Linked DNA regions of Homo sapiens. Changing the gene in region 4 together with the main gene of any one other region gives a genetic interaction. Each region holds a gene or a part of one and is shown on either strand. Other genes may lie near its edges.

Region 1 (3,500 bases), on a different chromosome or scaffold from region 4:
AATGAGCTCTGTGATGCATCAGCCAGGTCCACCAGGAGCAAGAGAGAAGAGGATGGTAACATGAAGCTATGTGTCTGCATCCTTGATGGATTCCCAACTCCCCCGCAGCATGAGACGTGGAGGCCCCTGGAGGGAAAAGGACTGGCCCACATTCTTGCTGCCTACTGGGCACTGCACACTGCAATGGGCACCATTCACACAGGCCACCACACTGTAGCCCTGAAAGCTGTTCGGCAAGAAGGGGCAGTGGTCAGGCAGGCAGCCAGCCTCAGGTCCACAGAGAAAGTTGCCTGGAATTCAAATGGCTTCTTAGTGGAGAGGTGGCTGAACCATGCCACCTGGGCCCCGTTAGATATCGATATTCACTGATTCTCAGTGCTTATTTATTTACTGGGACAGAGTCCTGCTCTGTCGCCCAGGCTGGAGTGCAGTGGCACAATCTCGGCTCACTGCAAGCTCCGCCTCCTGGGTTCACACTATTCTCCTGCCTCAGCCTCCTGAGTAGCTGGGACTACAGACGTCCACCACCATGCCTGGCTAATTTTTTGTATTTTTAATAGAGACGGGGTTTCACCGTGTTAGCTAGGATGGTCTTGATCTCCTGACCTCGTGATCTGCCCACCTCGGCCTCCCAAAGTGCTGGGATTACAGGCATGAGCCACCGCACCCAGCTTCTCAGTGCTTTTATACCAGGGTATTGTCTCCTTAAATCTCAGATTTCTTTTTGTTAAGAAGAATGTTGGGCCGGGCGCGGTGGCCTCACGCCTGTAATCCCAGCACTTTGGGAGGCCGAGGCGGGTGGATCATGAGGTCAGGAGATCGAGACCATCCTGGCTAACAAGGTGAAACCCCGTCTCTACTAAAAATACAAAAAATTAGCCGGGCGCGGTGGCGGGCGCCTGTAGTCCCAGCTACTCGGGAGGCTGAGGCAGGAGAATGGCGTGAACCCGGGAAGCGGAGCTTGCAGTGAGCCGAGATTGCGCCACTGCAGTCCGCAGTCCGACCTGGGCGACAGAGCGAGACTCCGTCTCAAAAAAAAAAAAAAAAAAAAAAAAAAGAAGAATGTTGCTGAGATGAATGGCATGATCTAATTCTTTTCCTGGCACTTCACTCCATCTCTCTCTTTCTGTAATTATGGAAAATTTTTAAGTAGTAAATAGAAAGGAAGAACCAGGCAGCTCCAACCATTAACAACTTGTGACCAATCTTTTCATCTCATGTATTATCTCACTCACCCTTCCCCATCAAGCATTACTTTGAAGAAAATGCCATAGATCCTACCACGTTGCCCACAAATACTTCAGCATGTTTCTCTCTCAATGAGGATGCGTTTTTAAATTTTTTTTGAGACAGGGTCTTGCTCTGCTGCCCAGGCTGGAGTACAGTGGCACATTCATAGCTCACTGCAACCTCCAATGCCTGGACTCACATGATTCTCCTATCTCAGCCTCCTGAGTAGCTGGGACCACCAGTGCATGCCACCATGCCCAGCTAATTTTCTTATTTTTTGCAGAGACGGAGTCTCACTATGTTGCCCAGGATGCCAACGAGGACTCTTCTTCCTTTTTTTTTTTTTTTTGAGACAGTCTTGCTCTGTTGCCCAGGCTGGAGTGCAGGCACAGTCATGGCTCACTGTAGCCTTGACCTCCTGGGCTCAAGTAATCCTCCCACCTCAGGCCTCCTAGGCAGCTGAAACTACAAGCACACGCCACCATGCCTGGCTAAATTTTAAATTTTTTGTAGATACAGGGTTTTGCCATGTTGCCCAGGCGGGTCTCCAACTCCTGGGCTCAAGTGATCCTTCTACCTTGACCTCCCAAAGTGCTGGGATTACCGGTGGGTGTGAGCCACCATGCCCAACCCAGTGAAGACTTTTAAAAAAATAAAATTACATACCCGGAGGCTGAGGCAGGAGGATCACTTGAGGCCAGGAGTTCAAGGCCAGTCTAGGCAACATGGCAAGACCTCATATCAAAAAAAGCCCCAAACAAACAAACAAAAAAATGTAATTACACCTCCATTATCACAGCTTATAAAATTGATTAATACCAAATAGCCAATCAGTAAGAAATTTTACCATTTGTGTTTCAAATAGCATGCAGGTCTGTATATATGCATGTAAGAATACATGTTTGAATGAATATAGAGGCAAAGGAGGAAGTTTTAAAGGTTACCTATGAGGAGATGCACTTAGGAATGATAGGGAACAGGGTAGGACAACAAAAAACCTTTAAGTTTTCTTCTATATGCTCTTCTACAGTTCAAAGTGAACTCGTTTTGCATTTATAATGTAAAATTAAGCGATATATAATATATATCCAGGGCGCAGTGGCTCATGCCTGTAATCCCAGCCCTTTTGGAGGCCAAGGTGGGCGGATCACCTGAGACTAGTCTGGCTAACATTGTGAAACCCCGTCTCTATTAAAAAAAAAAAAAAAAAAAAGAAAGAAAAAGAAAACCCACAAAATTAGCTGACAGTAGTGGTGCATGCCTGTAGTCCCAGCTACTCGGGAGGCTGAGGCAGGAGAATCACTTGAACCCAGGAGGCGGGGGTTGCCCTGAGCTGACATCACGCCATTGTGCTCCAGCCTGGGTGACAAGAGTGAAACCCCGTCTCAAAAAAATAATAAAATATATACCTAGTATGATCTCAAACACTTTAAAAGCAGACTCAGGAAGCTGGGCATGGTGGTATGTGCATGGAATTCCACCTACTCAAGAGGCTAAGGCAGGAGGATCACTTGAGCTCAGGAGTTCAAGACCAGCCTGGACAACATGGCAAGACTTTGTCTTGAAAAATAAAAAATAAGTATTAAGAAATGTGTCTTCTATGTAAGCAAAAGAAGATAATACGATGCAAAGGAGACACAGCAATTCCTCTGTAGAGTTATGGCTGCTGTTGGGGAAAGTACAAGGAGCCCTGGGACCTTAGGAGAAGAAGGGGCTATAAAAGCTTTGACTGAGTTACTCCTGCAAACGGTGTAAAACCAGTGCCCAGTACAGCGTTCCAGTGCTAATGGGTACAATTCTAAATGAACATGAAGATCAGCAATTCCTAAAGCATCCCACAGGTCACACAGAAAATGTGTCCGCTAGCTGCTTTCTGAAATCCCTCCAGCAGTACTTCTGAACGTGTGTCTTCTTTCCAGCTAATAAGAATCACCTGGGAGCCTGTAATAGGGCAGCTCCTGGGCCCCATACACCAAATGAGACTGGAAGGGCCCATCTGGTTGTTTTGGTTCGGCCTTGCACCCCCAGAGCATGGAGATATAATGCCTGGCACGGAGGAAGGGCTCAAATACTGCCAAAGATATGTGGTGCCCTCCCAATCTCCTCCCCAGGGTCTTTTAGGTCTTCTAGTGATAAGAGAAGAAGCTGGAGGTAGACTCTACCCTAGAACAATCAATATTCCATAGCCTGTTCCCAAAGCTGCAAGGCTCTTACTGGCTTTGGCGGTTTCGGCTTCTGCTTCTTCCTCCTCTTCCGAGCTCTCCGAGGTG
Region 2 (3,500 bases), on a different chromosome or scaffold from region 4:
TTTTTTTTAGTACTATGAAATCAAGGCATAATAGGTACTTGTTACTTTTAATGAGAATTTCATATGAATCACATTTTTATAAGGTATCTTTTAAAAAATTATACAGTTGACTTCAAGGGACCTTCAGAAGCAAAGCACCTACATATAATGGTGCTTGACAGTTTTACAAAGTTAGCATGACCATGATTTACCACCTTTTCCAACTTATAACATCTGTGAATTTGCTTGAAACACATACTGCCAGCCAGTCATAGTCAAATCCTGTCTCCATATCCCTGCCCCTCCTGGGAGCACATTTATTTATTATGTCTTTGCGTAATTATTCTTATCATTGGAAACAGTGTGCTTGATGTTAATGTTCAAATCTGTCAGAGGTAACACTTCTTTTCATAGCTACTTTGTAATCCTTTTTCTAACTATGAGGTAAAGAATACATAAAGAGGAATTTATATTAGATAAGTATTTCATCATAAATGTTCAGGTATGACTACAGTACACAGCATATTCGAAGATGATTGCCATAATATGCAAGACCTCTATGAGTGTCCTACAAGCCACTATCAGAAGATAAAGGATTATTGTTTTGGTGATTCAGTACCACAAGTGGTGTTGCTATTGGTTTCATGATTTTCCAAAATGGTAAAGAGCTTTTGATGAAGTTCCAAATACCATGTGATCTTCCTTTGGTTATATAATTACATTCTTGGGAAGATCAATGTGTATTACATGTATATTAAGATATACATTAGATGTGTATTAAAACTTCAGAGTTTCAGGCTTTGTTTCAAGTTGTACTTGATGGATTTACTATTTTTCAATAAGTTAAAATTTAAAAATTGTTTTGGCTTAAATTTCTAATATGGTAACTGTGGATAGATATAACCTACATAAACAAAAGCTTTTTGGAGTTCTCAATCGTAATAGTGTAAAGAAGCCCTGAGACCAAAGAGTTTGAGAACCACGCATCTAGAGTAATGTTTTTGTTGTTTTAGAGCATTGCTTTTCAACTAGAGCCATGCATTGGAATCGCCTGTGATTTCACAAGAACCTGATAACGTTGATTGCCTGTGGGAAGGGGAGCTGGTGGCCAGTGGTTGAGAACAGGACTTTTTATGGTATCTAACTTCATGCCTTTTCATTTTAAACTCTCTAAATGTGGGACTTACTCAGAATTAATATTGTGGGCTTCATCTCTAGGGCTTCTGATCCTGTAGGTGTCTGTTGGAGCTTGGCATCCGAAACATTAAAATGCGTGATAAGTTACTCTGACTTGCATCTGGAGTCAAGGGTGGCTAGTGTATGTGCTCTGTTCCTCTACTAAGCACTGTGGCTTACTCCCAACGCCCTCCTGACCCCTCCCCCATCCTTCAGAAAAGCAGAAGTGTGGAACATATAGTCCACGCTGTCGACAAGAAACAGGAAGGCAGAAACTTGGGTCTCCCCAAACAGTTCAACTTTTCCGCAGTTGTTTTTTGAATCTTGAGAAACACACAACTGTGGAGTTTCTGTATTCACTTGAGTCGAATTTATTTTTGTGCATCTTGAAGTTCAGTTGTCATCTTTAACCTGAGTGTATATAGAATCTTTTGGGGATACAAAGGGCAACTTTTTTGTTTAAAAGCTCTTGGGCCCACATCCAGGTGTCTCTGGAGCCTTCACATTTGGGACTGAACGCAATTCCAGCTGAGGGTCTTGCCTTGGCTTTGTATCTCCTCTAGTTCCTCTTCTCCTCTTCAGTCAGAGGGTCCTTTCTAGAAAACCAATCTCATCGAATCTGTTGAAGGCTTAATTTGTTCTCTATTTGTAGTCTTCAAGATGAAGACCAAATTATCTTGCTCAAGGTTAAAAATTGGGTGCATTTTTTGAGTTGTGATTCTAATGGCTGTAGCAGATATAGTATGTATTTAATATTTTCAGGTTAATAACAATACGAATAGCTAACATTTATATAAAACTTAAAATATGCTGGATGTTGTGCTTATACTGTGGTAGAATTATGGTGAACCTCATTTTCTAGATGAGAAAACTGAGACTTTGAGAGATTAAGTAGTTTGCTCACTATCATCGAGCTAGTAAATTGCGGGGCCAAGGTTGGAACCCAAGTTCTGATTCTACAGCTTGATATTTTGAATTAATTCACCCCGGCTTTTAAGTGTTGAATTTGATGGCGAATTTCTCTGTGTGCTCGATAGAGACAATAAGTCATGGCCCAGCTTGTGGGATGGCTTCTCACCTCTATCCGCTCTTGTGTTTAGAGTGTACAACTCAGCAGCACTGCTCTCTGGTCAGGCAGTGTGCCCTTGCATTCATTGAAATAATTTCAGAGGATCATCAGAGGAGTGTTCACTCCCCTTCCAGGAACCTGAGAACTGCCCACCCCTCACACACCCAGAGCAGATTAGAGGTGGGAGAACTAGACCTCTCCTTAGGTGATTTGTGGCCAAAAAAATGGAGTACTCTATTTTTCACTCTTGCATTAAGCAGAATCATCAGAGATCTACATCTGGACCTTGTCACCTGGGGCTCTCGATGGAGTGACTGACTGAGTGGCATTTAGAGCCCTGTGGCACGGCCTCCCTGCAGCAGCAGTGTCCAGTGCCGCCCTTCCCTGTGGGTTCCCCTCTCTGGTCCCTGGGCTCCTCACGTGGCAGCCTTGGCTGCCAGGCTAACGGTGTTTCCTGCAAGGCCTTCCCTCAGCATCTACTTCACGAGGTCCTCCTGGTCATGAGCTGTCATAGTGCCCTCATTTTCTTTGACGCTCTTATCACAGTCTGCCTTGGGTACTTATGTGCCACATTTGTTATGTTCTACGTCTGTCTCATTAACCACTGTACATCATATTGTTAGGGCCTGACGTGTTTGGCCTGTAGTAAGTATTTAGGAGTTATTCATTGAATTACTGATTGAGTTTAGTTATACTTTAAACACTGAACAGTATTTTGGGAGTATTTAAACCAGAAGCGTGTAGTGGACATTGCTTGATTTTTTCCCAGCTTATTCTTTGATTGCAGGTTCACTAAACAAGGAATGATTGCTATGTCTAATTTCTTTAGTAGTCTGGATTCTGTGCTTTTCCCTCTGAAGCACAGATTAAGTAGATTTGGTTTAAGAGGTAACAGTTGGATTTTTAAAAATATTTTATAATCAGCAAGAAGGATAAACTGGAAATTTGGTTGGTAAGAGGACAGGGAGACTCAGGTGTGGCTGAAGAGGTAAGTGGGGGTGAAATGATGACATCCATCTGAGGTGCAGAGAAAGTGAGGAGGTGAAGAGGAGAGTGTTTCTGGCATTGAAGAGTTCCTAACTTTTTGGTATGAGAAAGTTGAAAAGTATATAAAACATTTGGATTGGGGATATTTATGTGATGTACTTGAGTGTGAAAATGGTAACCTAAAAATAATTTTTACTGGCTGGGTACGGTGGCTCACACCTGTAATCCCAGCACTTTGGGAGGCCAAGGCGGGAGGATTGCTTGATCCCAGGAGTTCGAGACCAGCCTG
Region 3 (3,500 bases), on a different chromosome or scaffold from region 4:
ATGTTCATTTTTCTAAAATTTGAATGGATGTGGATAACAATCCTTACTTTTTTTCTTACATCAGTGTTACTTGCCAATGATTAGTCTTAATTACTGAAATTATTAGGAATAAGAAAGCATAGTGTCTACTTTTTTTAAAAAGTACATCTGAATGATATGAGTTTTTTTCTTTTTTTTTTTTTTTGAGACAAAGTTTTGCTGTCGCCCAGGATGGAGTACCATGGCACTATCTCGGCTCACCGCAACCTTCGCCTCCCGGGTTCAAGCAATTCTCCTGCCTCAGCCTCCAGAGTAGCTGGAATTACAGGTCTGCACCTAGCTAAAATTTTTTGTATATTTAGTAGAGATGGGGTTTCATCATGTTGGCCAGACTGGTCTTGAACTCCCAACCTCAGGTAATCCGCCCGCCTCGGCCTCCCAAAGTGCTAGGATTATAGGCGTGAGCCACGAGTTTTTCTTCTGCATCATTTATTACACATATTAGTGCTGAATATATATATATAAATATATATGAATATATATAATATAAAAAAATATATATATATATATATATTTTTTTTTTCCTTTCTCTTTCTAGATGGAGTTTCGCTCTTTTTGCCCAAGCTGGAGTGCAATGGCGCAATCTCACCTCACTGCAACCTCCGCCTCCCGAGTTCAAGTGATTCTTCTCCTGCTTCAGCCTACCGAGTAGCTGGGATTACAGGCATGTGCCACCACGCCTGGCTATCTTGTATTTTTAGTAGAGACGGGGTTTCTCCATGTTGGTCAGGCTGGTCTCGAACTCCCAACCTCAGGTAATCTGCCTGCCTCTGCCTCCCAAAGTGCTGAGATTACAGGCGTGAGCCACAGCATCCAGCCAAATATATTTTTGAAGTCTTTTCTTTAGAATTACAACCAAAGCAATTGCTCTAGTGTAATTTTTTCCCTCCTTTGAAAACTTTATTTGTGGGGAGGGGGAAACAAACAACTTATTGAAATTTGCAGTATGATATTATTTTAAAACAAAAGAAAAAAGATGTTAATTATTTGTGGGTATTAAAACACACACAGTAACTTAGTAATATGAGTTACTAACATCTTAATGTTTGTAATATAAAAATTAAGTATATTATAAATATAAAAATACAAATATGTAGTATAAATATAGTGTTTATAATATAAACACTAAGGTGTTAGTAACTGATATTGCTGGGTGGAAATACTATTATGGGTGATATTTATGCTGATTTTGTTGGTGATATTTTCTGATTTTTATGTAAGAGACATAGATTGAGTTTGCCTAAAAAACAAAAAAGAATAGAGTTTACTTTGTAAAAGTCAATGGCAAAGTTCAGCCCTGGAAAAGGCAAGAATATATGGCATATTTTGACCCGCCTAACTTCCCAACATTACTTTGTACACGTATTCACCTCTGTAATTCCGGGACTGTTTCTACATTATGTGCATACACATCTAATCCTGACAGAGCAACTTTTTCTATTGCTTTGAGATCACCTCGAAAATCAGGAGTAAGACACTCCACAAGGATTTTTGGATTCCTAAGGGGAAAAGAGAGAATTATCAAACAGAGAGAAAGAACTGACATACCTGTTCCTCAAAATAGAAATTATCAGTAATCGTTCAGTATGCTTCAACACAGTAACCTTTAGAACTTTGTCAAGAAAAGTATGAACATACAGATGTTCATACATGAACCATTATTAAAAAAAAAAAAGCAGACCGTTAAATACTATGTACACAGTGGTTAAAACACACCTGTAGGCAAACTGAATAAAATTTCAAATTATATATAGTAGACTTTTAAACCTAATTTAAGTAGGTTTTAGAAAAAGTAAATAATTGCAAGAAACTAAAATATGAAATATTAAAACATTAAATATAAAACTTTACTCATTGGAAAGTAAATTGAAGTATTTCTTATATAAATGTGAGTATTATTTGATTGCTTTAATTTTGATTTCTTTAAAAAGTCATCAAATCATGCTCTCCTCCCTTCCTCTAGGCAAATATTTCACAAGTGCTACGGGTTTTAAAAACTATTTTCTGGGTTGCTGAGTCATGAGCTTTGTTAAACGAAGTACGAGCTAAACATTAATCTTCCTATTTATATTGTGGCTATATCTATTCATCCAAGTATTATAATGTGAACTGGGTCACAGAGCTGTTCCCTTTGACACCAGCAAAAACGACTGAAACAGCTGACACATTTTTTCACAAACCCACTGGCAAAGTGTCTGGAGTTGTTCCCTGAAAGAACAGATGTAGAAAAGACCACATGTACACCCTTATCATGAATATAAGAGATATTCAAAGAACATATCCTATAATTTTTTTTTTTTAAATAAAAACAGGGTCTTGCTCTGTTGCCCAGTGCATCATAGCTCACTGTAACTTTAAACTCCTGGGCTCACGCAATCCTTCTGCCTCAGCCTCCCAAGCAGGTAGGACTATGGGCACATGCTACCACATCCAGCTATTTTTTTTTTTTAATTTATTTTTTGTAGAGACAGCATCTCCCTATGTTGCCCAGGCTGGTCTTGAACGCCTGTCCTCAAGCAATCTTCCTGCTTTGGCCTCCCAAAGTGCTAGAACTACAGGCGTGAACCACTGTGCTTGGTTCTATTGCTTTTTTAAACTGAAAGCTGAGACCCACTGAAGCTTGTAAAATAAACCTAGTGGATTGCAAACAGATTTTTCAAAAATGAACTATAGTAAATAGAAAATAGAAAATACTAGGGAATCATTTAAAAAATTTACTAAGTGCGCTTAGGTGCCAAACTAGTACTGAGCTGTAGAAAATTAGAATAATCTCAGCACTTTGGGAGGGCGAGGCAGGAGTATTGGTTGAGGTCAGGAGTTTGAGACCAGCCTGGGGAACATAGCAAGATTCCGTCTCTAAAAAAAAATGTAAAAACATTAGCCAAGCGTGGTAGTGTACCTGTAGTCCCAGCTACTTGGGAGGCTGAGGCAGAAGGATTGCTTGAGCCCAGAAGTTTGAGGCTGCAGTGAGCTATGATCATCAGGCCGCTGCACTCCAGCCTAGATGACAAAGCAAGACTGTCTCTTAAAAGAAAAAACAAAACAAACCCAAAAAAACAGGCCGGGCGTGATGGCTCAGGCCTGTAATCCCGCACTTTGGTAGGCTCAGGTGGGTGGATCAATTGAGGTCAGGAGTTTGAGACCATCCTGGCCAACATGGTCAAACCCTATCTCTACTAAAAGTACAAAAATTAGCTGAGCTTGGTGGCGTGGGCCTCTAATCCCAGCTACTCGGGAGGCTGAGGCAGGATAAATGCTTGAACTGGGAGGCAGAGGTTGCAGTGAGATGGTGCCATGCACTCTAGCCTGGGCAAAAGAGCGAGACTCCATCTCAAAAAAAAAAAAAAATCATTACTAAGAAGACCAGGTTTATACTTTTTAAAGAAAATTATTCAAAGTTTAGACTAATGCTCTAATATGAGGGAGGGATTCTATGGGCTAAAGGTCTATGGGTAAGTTCA
Region 4 (4,051 bases):
GACAAAGCTACCAGTGGCTGTCATAGGATGGTGGGATTTCAGGTGATCCTTAGATATTACATGTTATTACCTCACAATGAGCATGTGTTATTTATATAGTCTGAAAAAACAGAAAGCTATTTTTTTTGAGACGGATTCTTGTTCTGTTGCCCAGGCTGGAGTGCAGTGGTGCGATCTCGGCTCACTGCAACCTCTGCCTCCCTCCTGGGTTCAAGCGATTCTCCTGCCTCAGCCTCCCAAGTACCTGGGATTACAGGCACGTGCCAGCACACCCAGCTAATTTTTGTATTTTTAGCAGAGATAGGGTTTCACCATGTTGGCCAGGCTGGTCTCCCAACTCCTGACCTCAGGTAATCTGCCAGCCTCGGGGCCTCCCAAAGTGCTGGGATTACAGGTGTGAGCCACTATGCCGGGCCCATAGAGCTATTTTCTTTGGGGATAAAAATGGGAGTTATAAGAATTGGAGACTCACTATTAAGAATAAAGAGAGAAACCATATATTTTACAGGTGAACATCATAGCTTTTATCTGAAAGAGGTATAAAAAAGATGCCCATGTTCTAATTCTTCTTTTGCTACCTAAGAGTTGTTGACATTGGCCCCAGGCCCTAAAAAGCAATCAAGATGCAAAATGAAGTACTATAAGGAAAACAAACTTCACTATCACTGTGTATCTATCTTCAGTGCAGAAACACAATCTTTTAAGTTACACCATCCTTCACAATCTAAGAGGTGCTGCTGTAGATGATGTAACTGACAGCAACATCAGAGTTGGGCTCCTAGGGATTCTCTCCCCTCAGACACCCGAGTCCCTTTTTGTAGTGTATAAAAGATGATTATGTGTTGACAGATCATAAACACACTGAGATAAAGGAGACACTAAAAAGCACATTTTAACACTTGTGAGGTATTCTAAGATTCAGATTTGGCTTTCCAGAATTGGAAAATTGGCCTTGGATGGTGCCTACAGCCATGAGTCTCAAACTATTTTCCAAGCTTGGCACACATGACAGTTTCACCTACCCAAGCACTTTTCCCTGGGTCTTCCTGAAGTTATGCCACTGACACCCTTTCCCCTCAACTCATGAAAACACATCAGAAGGCAAGTGAGTGAGATGACCTTTAGTCAGCTGGAATATAGAAAAGGCAAGCTGTGACATTAACCATTAGTAACAGTATTCGCAATCCCACTTGAGTGTTGCTACACTGTGGTTAAAAAATTGTGGTCTCCAGCCTGGCCAACATGGTGAAACCCTGTCTCTACTAAAAATATAAAAAAATTAGCTGGGTATGGAGGCAGGTGCCTGTAATCCCAGCTACTTAGGAGGCTGAGGCAGGAGAATTGCTTGAACCCAGGAGACAGAGGTCACAGTGAGCCGATATCATGCCACTGTACTCCAGCCTGGGCCACAGAGTGAGACTCCATCTCAAACGCAAAAAAAATTGTGGTCTCCAAAATAGTATGGTGTAAAATGGTTCGTTACCATATGCATAGGGGAAGACAATGTTAGAACTAGTTCTAGATATTTCTTTTTATCTCATCATTTAAAAATTAGTGTTTTATAACAGTAAGTTATAGAAATAATATTACTACATGTGTAAAATATATAAATATCCATATCAAGGGCATACCTGCTAAAACATTTCTTAACTGGCTAGGGTGCAGAATTAAACCTTTTTGAAACTAAACCTAAAAGCCAAAGCGAAAGTCATTTTCATTTAAATGCAAACTTCAGAAAAGAATGAATACTCAAAAGTTTTAGGAGATGAAAGAGAAGAGTAGTTAAGAAGTTTAAAGGCCCAGTGCTTTTTCTATTAATTAGTAAAACCCACACTAAACACTACTGCAAAAGCTAAAAATAAATGTAAAAAAGAGAAAGGAAACAGAAGACTCTATTGGGATGGAATGAGAACAGCATCTTTCATCCACCCATGCATACCCACACACAGGTAATTATGATGTAACTCCCTGGAACAGTTCAAGAAAAAAATTAACAAGATGCACAGCCTCTTGGCATTCTGATGTGGTTTTAGCATTCCGTCTCTTAAAATAAAAAGCAATTAGTTATATAGTTGACCCTACAGTATTTAGGAAAACAGAAGCAACACGTGAGGCTAAAATCATTTAATTATACACAGGCCACAATTGCAGGATGGAAAGGCAGTGGGCACTTGGAAGTGACTACACATGGCAATAAGCAGCCTATCTTCTTTACCAACCAGAAGTTTCTTGGGGCATGTGATGGTAGGCCAGACCCTTTCCAAGGGAATAATACTACACTAAGCCTACACTGTACTGTGAGAGTCATGGTGGAACAAGGCCACAGGCAGTGGGAGGAAATGTGATGACTCACTGTGTCAGAATTCTAAGGCCCAGCATGATCAGGATGTAAGGCTCCATAATTTTCTAAACCAGAAATTATGAGAAGAACAAAATTCTGCAATCACTTATGTTTTTTTCTTCTTTTTTTTTTTTGAGACAGAGTTTCACTCTTGTTGCCCAGGCTGGAGTGCAGTGGCACAATCTCGGCTCACTGCAACCTCCGCCTCCTGGGTTCAACCAATTCTCCTGCCCCAGCCTCCTGAGTAGCTGGGATTACAGGCATGTGCCACCACGCCCAGCTAATTTTGTATTTTTAGTAGAGATGGGGTTTCTCCATGTTTGTCAGGCTGGTCTTTAACTCCTGACCTCAGGTGATCCGCCTGCCTTGGCCTCCCAAGTGCTGGGATTACAGGCGTGAGCCACCATGCCCGGCTGCAATCACGTATGAGTTTTTCTAAAAAAACCGAAACACTGGAAACATGGATGCATCTTAAAGACTTTATGCTAAGTGAAACCAGTCACAAAAGGACAAATACTGTATGATTCCACTTACATGAGAAATATGAGTAGTGAAGTTGATGATAGAGACAAAAGGTATGGCTGTTGCTAGGGGAAGGGGAGGTGGGGAGTTATTGTTCAATGGGCACAGAATTTGGGAAGATGGAAAACTTCTGGAGATGGATGATGGTGATGGCTGGACAACAATGAGAATGTACTTAATCCACTGAATTGCATATTTAAAAATGGGTAAGCTGGTCAGTTTTATGTTATAAATATTTTACCTCAATAAAAACAAATTGAACTTAAAAATTCACTGAAGAAGCCAATATGGAAAAAGGACTAAATGTTAAAAAAAAAAAAGCCAACTTTTTTTTTTTAATCAAGAGATAAGTACTTAGCTGCAAGCTCAAGGTCTCGGTTGAGGACAATCATTATGAGTCCTAGTAAAAGACAACCAGTTTTAAGAACACTGTCAGGCAAGCTACCATGTAGTTCTCCTTGACTCCATGCTTAGCTCTTTCAGACTTCCCAGTAATTACGAAGGGTCACATTTTTGTTCAGCTTTGCCCAGTGCTGTCATTCATAATAGATGAATGAAAAGTCCCAGAAACCTGTTCTGTTTGGGAAGGTTTTCTTTTGTTCCAGGCTTCGGTGGTTAATATGCTTGACAAATTTCAGAGTCTCTCTGTCTCTGTAGACCAATGCCAAAGAATTGCTTTCTGGATTCACTGTTAGCAGCTGAAAAAGACAAATACAGTGACACATCAGAACACAGAACTTATTCTCAAATCTTGGATGATTAACCATGGAACAGATGGTTTCCATATCAAGCACTTAATCTGGGGATAGAGGGGTCCTCTGAATGAACACTTACTAGGGGTGGCTGTCAAGCCATTTTCCAACAAGCCCTATTCCAGCATATACCTAGAAAGGTACTTACCTATTACATTTATTTCTTACTACATTGTAAGATTTGTGGGAATGCACCACATGGCTCTTAATTTGGAATTTCTCAGGAGGGTAAAATAAATGCTTACTGAGTATCCTTTAGCATCTTTATTCCATCCTGAGTATTTTCTACTAGAAATTAGAACCATTGCCTGGCAGAGATTTATTAGCTAAAGACACTGGTAGAAGGTCATAAAAATTGGGTCTTTGAAAAATGAAAGCATTCTCAATAACTAAAAATGATAGTTTGCTATCAGAAGAAACTTACCTCTTCATCTTC

Evidence for each region.
Region 1: changes in OGFOD1 (region 4) and TCOF1 together harm fitness more than expected from each alone (negative genetic interaction), as found in Homo sapiens cells (one large-scale study listed by BioGRID).
Region 2: changes in OGFOD1 (region 4) and TUBGCP3 together harm fitness less than expected from each alone (positive genetic interaction), as found in Homo sapiens cells (one large-scale study listed by BioGRID).
Region 3: changes in OGFOD1 (region 4) and LIAS together harm fitness less than expected from each alone (positive genetic interaction), as found in Homo sapiens cells (one large-scale study listed by BioGRID).

The regions. Positions count from the first base shown.
Region 1 is NC_000005.10:150,364,197-150,367,696, reverse strand, and holds part of TCOF1 (treacle protein), read right to left. Parts: coding exon 3,445-3,500; intron 1-3,444.
Region 2 is NC_000013.11:112,581,654-112,585,153, reverse strand, and holds part of TUBGCP3 (gamma-tubulin complex component 3), read left to right. Parts: intron 1-992; exon of another isoform or gene 993-1,115; intron 1,116-3,500. UniProt on the Homo sapiens protein: Component of the gamma-tubulin ring complex (gTuRC) which mediates microtubule nucleation.
Region 3 is NC_000004.12:39,465,556-39,469,055, reverse strand, and holds part of LIAS (lipoyl synthase, mitochondrial isoform 1 precursor), read right to left. Parts: intron 1,539-3,500; coding exon 1,410-1,538; intron 1-1,409. UniProt on the Homo sapiens protein: Catalyzes the radical-mediated insertion of two sulfur atoms into the C-6 and C-8 positions of the octanoyl moiety bound to the lipoyl domains of lipoate-dependent enzymes, thereby converting the octanoylated domains into lipoylated derivatives.
Region 4 is NC_000016.10:56,475,554-56,479,604, reverse strand, and holds the end of OGFOD1 (prolyl 3-hydroxylase OGFOD1), read right to left. Parts: coding exon 4,040-4,051; intron 3,562-4,039; coding exon 3,400-3,561; 3' UTR 501-3,399; downstream 1-500.